Linked DNA regions of Homo sapiens. The protein of the gene in region 2 purifies or fractionates together with the protein of the main gene of each other region. This does not show direct contact. Each region holds a gene or a part of one and is shown on either strand. Other genes may lie near its edges.

What was found.
Region 1: the proteins of AIFM3 (region 2) and GRK6 purify together in Homo sapiens (affinity purification with mass spectrometry; one large-scale study listed by BioGRID and IntAct). This does not show direct contact.

Annotation. Positions count from the first base shown.
Region 1 is NC_000005.10:177,439,955-177,443,610, forward strand, and holds the end of GRK6 (G protein-coupled receptor kinase 6), read left to right. Parts: exon of another isoform or gene 1-77; intron 78-745; coding exon 746-883; intron 884-964; coding exon 965-1,099; intron 1,100-1,290; coding exon of another isoform or gene 1,291-1,296; exon of another isoform or gene 1,297-1,399; intron 1,400-1,780; coding exon of another isoform or gene 1,781-1,782; coding exon 1,783-1,836; coding exon of another isoform or gene 1,837-1,873; 3' UTR 1,874-2,937; downstream 2,938-3,656.
Region 2 is NC_000022.11:20,966,062-20,970,345, reverse strand, and holds the start of AIFM3 (apoptosis-inducing factor 3), read right to left. Parts: upstream 3,092-4,284; 5' UTR 3,043-3,091; intron 2,542-3,042; 5' UTR 2,402-2,541; coding exon 2,371-2,401; intron 1-2,370. UniProt on the Homo sapiens protein: Induces apoptosis through a caspase dependent pathway. Reduces mitochondrial membrane potential.

The DNA.
Region 1 (3,656 bases), on a different chromosome or scaffold from region 2:
TGGCTGTTATTGCTGCTGTGAACATTCCTGTACAAGTTTTTGTGTGTGCAGATGCCGCCATTTCTCTTGGTCTATACCTAGGAGTAGAATTACTAGGTCATATGGTAATGATGTTTAAGCTTTTGGGGAACTGCCAGACTGTTTTCCAAAGCAGCTGTACCATTTTACATGACAATGATTTTAATTGACATCTTAATTGAAGGATTTAGAAAACAATGTTAAGATAAAAAAAGAAGGTGGCCGCCTGGAGCTGAGGTGGGCTCCCAGTGTGGGTCTGGGGAGGTGGAGCAGTGGGAGACCGTGCCAGTCCTCTGATTGGCTGGGAGAGAAGACGGCAAGTCCCAGGTCATCGCAGGGCGGGGAGCCAGGGAGTCACCAGCTCCAGGCTCTGCGTGGTGGTGCCCAGCGGAGGGGCCGGCTGAGATTCAGCCTGTACTCCCCGCCCCAACTGCATACCCAGGAAGCTGTGGGCAGGCGAAGGAGGTGCCTGGCATTGGCCTTTACACAGCCTCACAGTCATTGAGCAGTGAGGAATAACGTACGCAGTTCACAGAGGGGAAAACCAGGCTTCGGAGAGAAGGGCCTGCCCCACTTAGGAAGTGCGTGGGGCACCTGGTTTCTCCAAATCAGAGAGCTGCTGGTGTCAGGCAGCACTAGGCCAAGACCCGAGGCAGAATCAGGGCTGAGCTGCCTTCGCGTGTGCGTGTGTGTGTTTCCTATCTGACCGTTGCCTCTGTCCCACCAGCCCCAGGCCATTTACTGCAAGGATGTTCTGGACATTGAACAGTTCTCTACGGTCAAGGGCGTGGAGCTGGAGCCTACCGACCAGGACTTCTACCAGAAGTTTGCCACAGGCAGTGTGCCCATCCCCTGGCAGAACGAGGTGGGGGCCTGCCCTGCTGGTGGGGTGGGCTCCAGGAGGCTGCCCTGGGGACAGCTGTCACAGCCGCCTGCTCCTCAGCAGATGGTGGAGACCGAGTGCTTCCAAGAGCTGAATGTCTTTGGGCTGGATGGCTCAGTTCCCCCAGACCTGGACTGGAAGGGCCAGCCACCTGCACCTCCTAAAAAGGGACTGCTGCAGAGACTCTTCAGTCGCCAAGTAAGCCCCAGCAGCGGCCTACCTGGGCCCCTAACCTGGCTCCAGGGGACGGTGGGTGGGAGGCAGAGCCGGTGCCCGCATGCGCTGGGAGTGGGCGTCCTCCAGTCCTGTTGTGGTGCCCAGGGTCTCTGGCCTCATTCCCGCCTGTCCCCCACCCCTGGCTGGGCTCATGGCCTCTTTTCTCTTTCCAGAGGTGAGCAGTGTGGGCTCCCCGTGGGTTGGCCTTGCTGCCTGGCCTCGGGGAGCCACGGGCAGCCCTTCCATGGCAAAGGCAAGATGTGGGAGAAAGAAGTCTGGTGCCCGCCCCACTCCCCCTGCCCACTGCTTTGATCCCCTGCACCCTGGCCCCTTCGAGCTGCCAGCTTTGCTTCGCTTGTCTCCCCGTGCCCTGTCTCTGCCAGCCCCAGGGGAGAGGGCTGGGCAGAGGCCTTGCCCTGGCAGACCGTGGGATCTACCCAGCCCCCTTACTTCAGTCTGTTGCCGGCAGCCTCTGCAATGACGCCCACCCACGTGTGGCCTGAGCTGCTGCTCCAGGCTCCTTGTGGAGAGGCCCCTCCCCAGAGTGCACCCCTCAGGCAGCTCCTGGCCTGCCCTGGCAGGGTCGGCCCCATGTGACGTCCCTCGTGGTTAATGGCACCTGCTCTGCCTCTCTCCCTCCCTCCGTGTCTTCCCCGTCCCTCCAGGATTGCTGTGGAAACTGCAGCGACAGCGAGGAAGAGCTCCCCACCCGCCTCTAGCCCCCAGCCCGAGGCCCCCACCAGCAGTTGGCGGTAGCAGCTACTCCGAGCGCCGTTTACAGTTTTGCACAGTGATCTTCCCCATTGTCCACTCAAGTCGTGGCCTGGGGAACACAGACGGAGCTGTCCCCAGTGTCCTCCGTCCCTCAGCCCCTGGCCTGGCTGAGTTTGGCAGGGCCTGGGCCATCCCTGGGACAAAGGTGCGTCCCTTCAGCTCTTCTCCGTGGAGCTCGGGGCTTTCTGTATTTATGTATTTGTACGAATGTATATAGCGACCAGAGCATTCTTAATTCCCGCCGCAGACCTGGCGCCCCCGCCTTGGCTCCTGGGGGCAGCCAGCCCTGGCTGGGAGAGCGGGAGCTGGCAGAGGAGCCACTGCCAAACTCAAGGCTCCTCTGGCCCAGCTTGGATGGCTGAGGGTGGTCACACCCCTGAGCCTTCAGCACTGTGCTGGCCACCCCGGCCTCTGAGTAAGACTCGTGCCTCCCCCTGCTGCCCTGGGCTCAGGCTGCTACCCTCTGGGGCCCAAAGCTGTCCCTTCTCAGTGCTTGTCAGCGCTGGGTCTGGGGCCTCTGTATGCCCTAGGCCTGTGCCAAAGTGGCCAGAGATTGGGCTGCCTGTGATACCCATCAGCCCACTGCCCCGGCCGGCCCAGATAGGTCTGCCTCTGCCTTCCAGCTCCCACAGCCTGGTCCCTGATACTGGGCTCTGTCCTGCAGACACCTCTTTCAGAAACGCCCAAGCCCAGCCCCTAGGAGGGGGTGGGGCATCCCTGGTCAACCCTCAAACATTCCGGACTCCCCTCATAACAATAGACACATGTGCCCAGCAATAATCCGCCCCTTCCTGTGTGCGCCTGTGGGGTGCGTGCGCGCGCGTGTGTACCTGTGTGGGTGAAGGGGATAGGGCGAGGCTGTGCCTGTGCCCCAGGTCCCAGCCCTGGCCCTTCCCAGACTGTGATGGCCATCCTGGTCCCAGTGTTAGGGTAGCATGGGATTACAGGGCCCTGTTTTTTCCATATTTAAAGCCAATTTTTATTACTCGTTTTGTCCAACGTAAGCTGCCACATGTCTCTGTGTGAATAGTCCGAGCACAAACCTGGCTAGCCGCCCCTGCCTGCCTCTTTCTTGCTTCCGGTGCTCCAGGGGTCTTCCTGCTCCCCTGGCCCAGCTGGAAGCGGGAAGGGATTGGAGGTGGGCCTGGAGGGAAGCAGGGTGTGCCCTTCCGAGGCCCAGGAGCCCCCAGGGCTGACTCTGAACTAGCCTCTCCAGACAGCCAGGCTTTGGTAGCCTTTGGGCTCACCCAGTGGGTTTCCCAACTTCCTAAATGGGATGGGGCCTAAGGAAAGAAGCCTTGGGTACCCACTGGGATGTGGGTCTGTTTCTGACTGCTGGTAAGGCGGGCCCCGTTGGTGTCCTCCCCTCCAAGGCTAAGGTGGCCTGGCTGCCTAAATGTGGACGTAAGAGTAGGGTGGGAGCTGTGTAAGGAATGTCTGCCCCAGGCCTGCGTTACCTGGACGCCAGCCATGTACGGGCCCCGGGCTGAGGCACGTGCATCATATCCACCCCTCTGTTTTGCCCTTGACACATTATGGGCAAAGACCTAGACAGTGGGTGACGCTGGCAGATAGGCTGTGGCCAGTGTGGGAGAGTTCTCTGAAGACGGTGGTTGAGCCGGCCTCGAAGTGGACATTCACCTGGGAGGAAGGGGGACTGGGAGGCACTCAAGGGGAGCTTCCTGCCTGGGCTCTGGGGCTGAGAGCTTGTTGCCTACCAGTCTGTCCCAGATCTGGCAACCCCATCACTGCTCTATAGACTCCC
Region 2 (4,284 bases):
GACTTTACTCCAACCTGGGCAACAGAATGAGACCCCATCTCAAAAAATGAAAATAAAACAGAGAGAACAGCAAATGCCTACCTCGTTGGTGACAGTGAATGCTGAAGGAAATACTGTATGTAACCCAGAGTAGAAGCTCAATAGATGGAGTTGGGCAGCAGTGTTTTACCAGTTAGCTCTGAGCCTCCTAGCAGCCATGGTGAGGATGGAAAGCCTTTAGGTATCAGTTATGGCCTAATAAAAGGCAGGTGAACAGATGCTAAGAGAGCTGCACTTCCTCCTAGCTCTGAGCTAGGTGAGGGACTGGTCTGATACCTTCTTATCAACTACTCAGACAGGACACACAGGAGCACAGAGGGAACCCAGGAAGCAGGTGCTGATGCACACGGAGCCACAGAATCGAGTGGAGCAAGATAGAAAGTGAAGGATTTGCACAGAGGTCTTCTGCTTGATCTAGTCTCTTTGTGGCCCCTTAAGACCCCAGCTGAACCCTCAGGCCCCAAATGCTGTCACTCCCATATCTGGAAATTCCCTGAGCCTCATGCCTGACCTGCCCAGCATGGGCACCTGGGGCCTGAGCCTCTGGCTACAGCCCCACAGGGGAGGCCTGGCAGCACAGAGCCCAGCTCAGAAAAGGGATAACAAATAATATTCCTTGGGAGGCCGAGATGGGCGGATCACAAGGTCAGGAGATAGAGACCATCCTGGCTAACACGGTGAAACCCCGTCTCTACTAAAAATACAAAAAAATAGCTGGGCGTGGTGGCGGGCGCCTGTAGTTCCAGCTACTTGGGAGGCTGAGGCAGGAGAATGGCATGAACCTGGGAGGCGGAGCTTGCAGTGAGCCGAGATCACGCCACTGCACTCCAGCATGGGAGAAGGAGTGAACTCTGTCTCAAAAAAAAAAAATTCCGCAAGTGCTTCTGGTGTGCCAGGCCCTCATGCTAGGCACAACAGCCCCACTTTACAATGAGGATGCAGAGGCTCAGAGAGGGGAAATCACCTGCCCAAGGCCACACAGCCAGAAAGGGGCAGGGCTGGATTTGCCTAAGTTCTTAGGACTGCCTTTGGTGAGGGTGGCCACCCCCGACACTGGAAGTCCTGGGGCCACGGGTCCCAGGCAGGCCAGCCATTTGGGGTCCTTTAAAAGAACCTGCAGGTGGCATCTTCTGCCAGGGCCTCCTGCCAGCCCAGCGGTGCCACAGACGCCTGGTATGAGGCCAGCTGGCATCATCCCACCCACTGCTAGGGGGAGACAATGGACGTCATCTGCCCAAGGCACATTTTGAGGCAGAGAGGGATCCAGCCCAGGCCTAGGTGTCCACAGCACAGGAGCGGGGGAGGAAGAGTGGCTTCTTGGAGCAGAGGCAAGTGGGTCCCTCTGCCTGGTGGGTCATCACAGCCCTCCTCCCTCGCCCAAGTTCTCCCTTAGACCCAGGAAAGGGAGAAAAGCCTCACAAGTTCCAAGGTAACGGAGCTGATGGGTATCAGGTAAGGGGAGCTGGGGTGAGCTGGCTGGGGTGAGCTGGCTGGGGTGAGCTGGCTGGGGCAGCGTGGCCTGGCAGGTTGAGTGGAGCACTGGCTGCGCTCTTGAGGTCTCTCTAAGCCTCAGTTTCTCCACCTGTGACAAAGCTGCACACTCCTGCCTCCCCAGGTGTTGTGAGGAGAGAAGAGGGAAAGTGGGGGGCCAGAGGGAGAGCTCCGCAGACATGAGTCTTTAGTGGAGAAAAGACCCAGGCCTCCCCTAGCACCCCAGGACACTCCCACTTCTGGCTGGAGTAGCTCAGGCTAGGTTGGATGGTGATTTCCTGTATAAATGGGGAAGTGTGCCCAGAAAGGCCAAGAAGGCAGCCCGAGACCACACAGGGGATCAGAGGAGGCAAAGAGAGCCAGGATCTGCCCACTACACCCTCACAGCAACTCTAAGAGGTCAGGGTGGCCAGGCCCTCTCTTTTGCAGAGAGAAAAACAGAGGCTCAGAGGGGTAACTTGCATGCCCTAGGTCACAGAGTGGCTGAGCGTGTCCCCAGCTCCCCCCTTCCCTGGCCCTGGGGGCATAGCCCCTTCCCCAACCCTGCAACAGGAGGAACCCTGACTTTCCTTTTCCAAGAAGGGTCCTGCTGTTATTCCCACCACCAACACTCAAAGCCCCAAAGAAAAAGGGGCACCCACTGGAGCAGGGGCCAGCTGGGGGAACTGCTCCAGGCCCCCTACCCCCTCCTGGCGGCAGCGTATTAACATTCCGAGCGGGTTCTTGGATAGCCTGACCTACTTCGGAGGCCTACCGAGTGCAGAGGGGGAGGGGGGGGAGACGGGGGAGGAGGAGGCGGGGAGGGAGGAGAAAGGATGGAGACAAGAAGACAGGAGGTACCTGGTTTGGGTTTGGAGAAGCAGCCGCCCATGGCGAGTGGCCTGAGGATGGCCGGCAGGCAGGAGCACAGATGGGGAGCTGTCGGAGGCCTAGGGCGCCCCCCATGGGGCTGGACCCCCTGCAGGCCTTAGAGACGCTGGAGCCGCCATCCTGCTGGAGCTGCTCTAGGACCTGCAGGGGAGACTGGAGCCATCAGGACCGGGGCGTGTGGGCAGGTAGAGACACAGAGGGACGGAGAGAGACAGTGGGAGCTTCGGAAAGAGTCTTACATTTGAGCTGGGAACCATGGCGTGAGCCTGATCCCAGAGCGTGGGGCCCTGGAGGTCACCTCCCCTTTGAAGCCCTCCAAGCTCAGCTCCCTCACTCCTCCAGTGGAGTTCCTCTGCCCGAACCTCGGCCGCCCATCGTCCAGCCCCGCGGCTGCCTTGCCCAGGAAATCCTCCCTGATTTCTACTGCCTCCTCGTGCCCCCCTTCCCCTCTCCAAATCCCACAGCCTGAGAGCTCTGGGACCCTCCATTCTCCCGGGAGACCACTATGCCTAGGCTCAAAGAGGGGGTCACCTTGGGGAAGCCAAAGCCCTTCTCATCCTTGGTCTTCTCCCTCCTACAATGGGGGTGACATCAGGCTCCCCCTAGCCCAGCCCCACCCTGGCTAGCACTCCGGACACCCACCTCCTCGCAGGGCAGCCACTGCTCCGTGTTCCAGGCCCAGCAGTGGACTGAGGCTGCCGGGCCTTGGAAGGCCGGGCAGGGAGGGCAGGGGTCCAGGAGGCGGCCCAGCCTCCACCCTCCTCCCAGCTCAAGCTGTGGCCAGGAGGGGCTGGGGGGCGGTGTGGGGCTGGGCCAGTCCACTGGTCCCCAGGGAAACCCTGCTCTGTGGTGAACAGAAGTGGGCGGCCAGCCCGGGCCTGATGGGGTTAGGGGAAAGGGAAGCCAGGCACACAGCCCTGCCACGCCTGTGCCCAGCAGCCATAAGCTCCCCCTACCCCCGACTCCAGCCCTTCACAAACGCCCACCAGGCCTGTGGGCAGTCATGCCCAACAGCATATGGGGAAAGCAAGGGGTCAAGGTCCCATCAAGGTCAAGCAGCAGGGGCATCCCTGTGGCCTCCCACCCCACCCTCCCACCTTGATCAGTTTTAAGGTGGGCAGGGGCCCAGAAAGCCCCCATATCACCCTAAGGCCCTGCAAGGTGCCCTGGGGGAGGGGACACCTGCACAGCAGAGAGATCACTGTAGCCAGGTGCCTTCCAGGCTACAGGGTGGGCCTTCCGGAAGATGCAGCCTACAGGTGGACTTTGGAAGGCCCAGGGCACAGGCATAAGCTGCCTTGTTTGCAAATGACCTCCCCACAGTCCATCCCACTGCCATCCTCCAGTTTCCTCTGGAAGTTCTTCCTGAAGTCTCACTTGAGGTGGGGCTGAGACCCACCTGGTCTGGTCCAGATACCAGGAAGGGCCGTGGGTGGGTGCCTGAGAGCAAGGGGTGGAAACAAAAGGCCAGGTTGGAGAGGGACCCTTGGTGCCTGGCCCCTGCGCCTGTCGGTCCTCGAGGTGCCCATTACAGGGGAGGAGGCGGTGGCTCCCACAGCCACTGGGGCGTGCCTTGGCTCTTTCCCCCACTTGTCATCAAAGAAGGTCTGTAAAACTCAACTGCCACCTGCCCCACCTGCCCCTTCCCTGGGCACTAGGCTGTCCCTTCCTGGGTCCTGGTTTCAGCCCTGGTTCAGCCCTGCCCGCTTCCTTCCTGGCTGACCTCAGGCCTCACCTGATGGGCCACAGATCCCAGAAAAGGTCAGACCTGGTCTTGCCACTGGGGACCTGCCCAGGCTGTGCTGTCCCTTCCCGAGTACCCAGGGACCTGAATCCCCCAGGGCCTGGGCCAGGAAGGAGACTGGGTGGGGCCCCTGTGCCTTC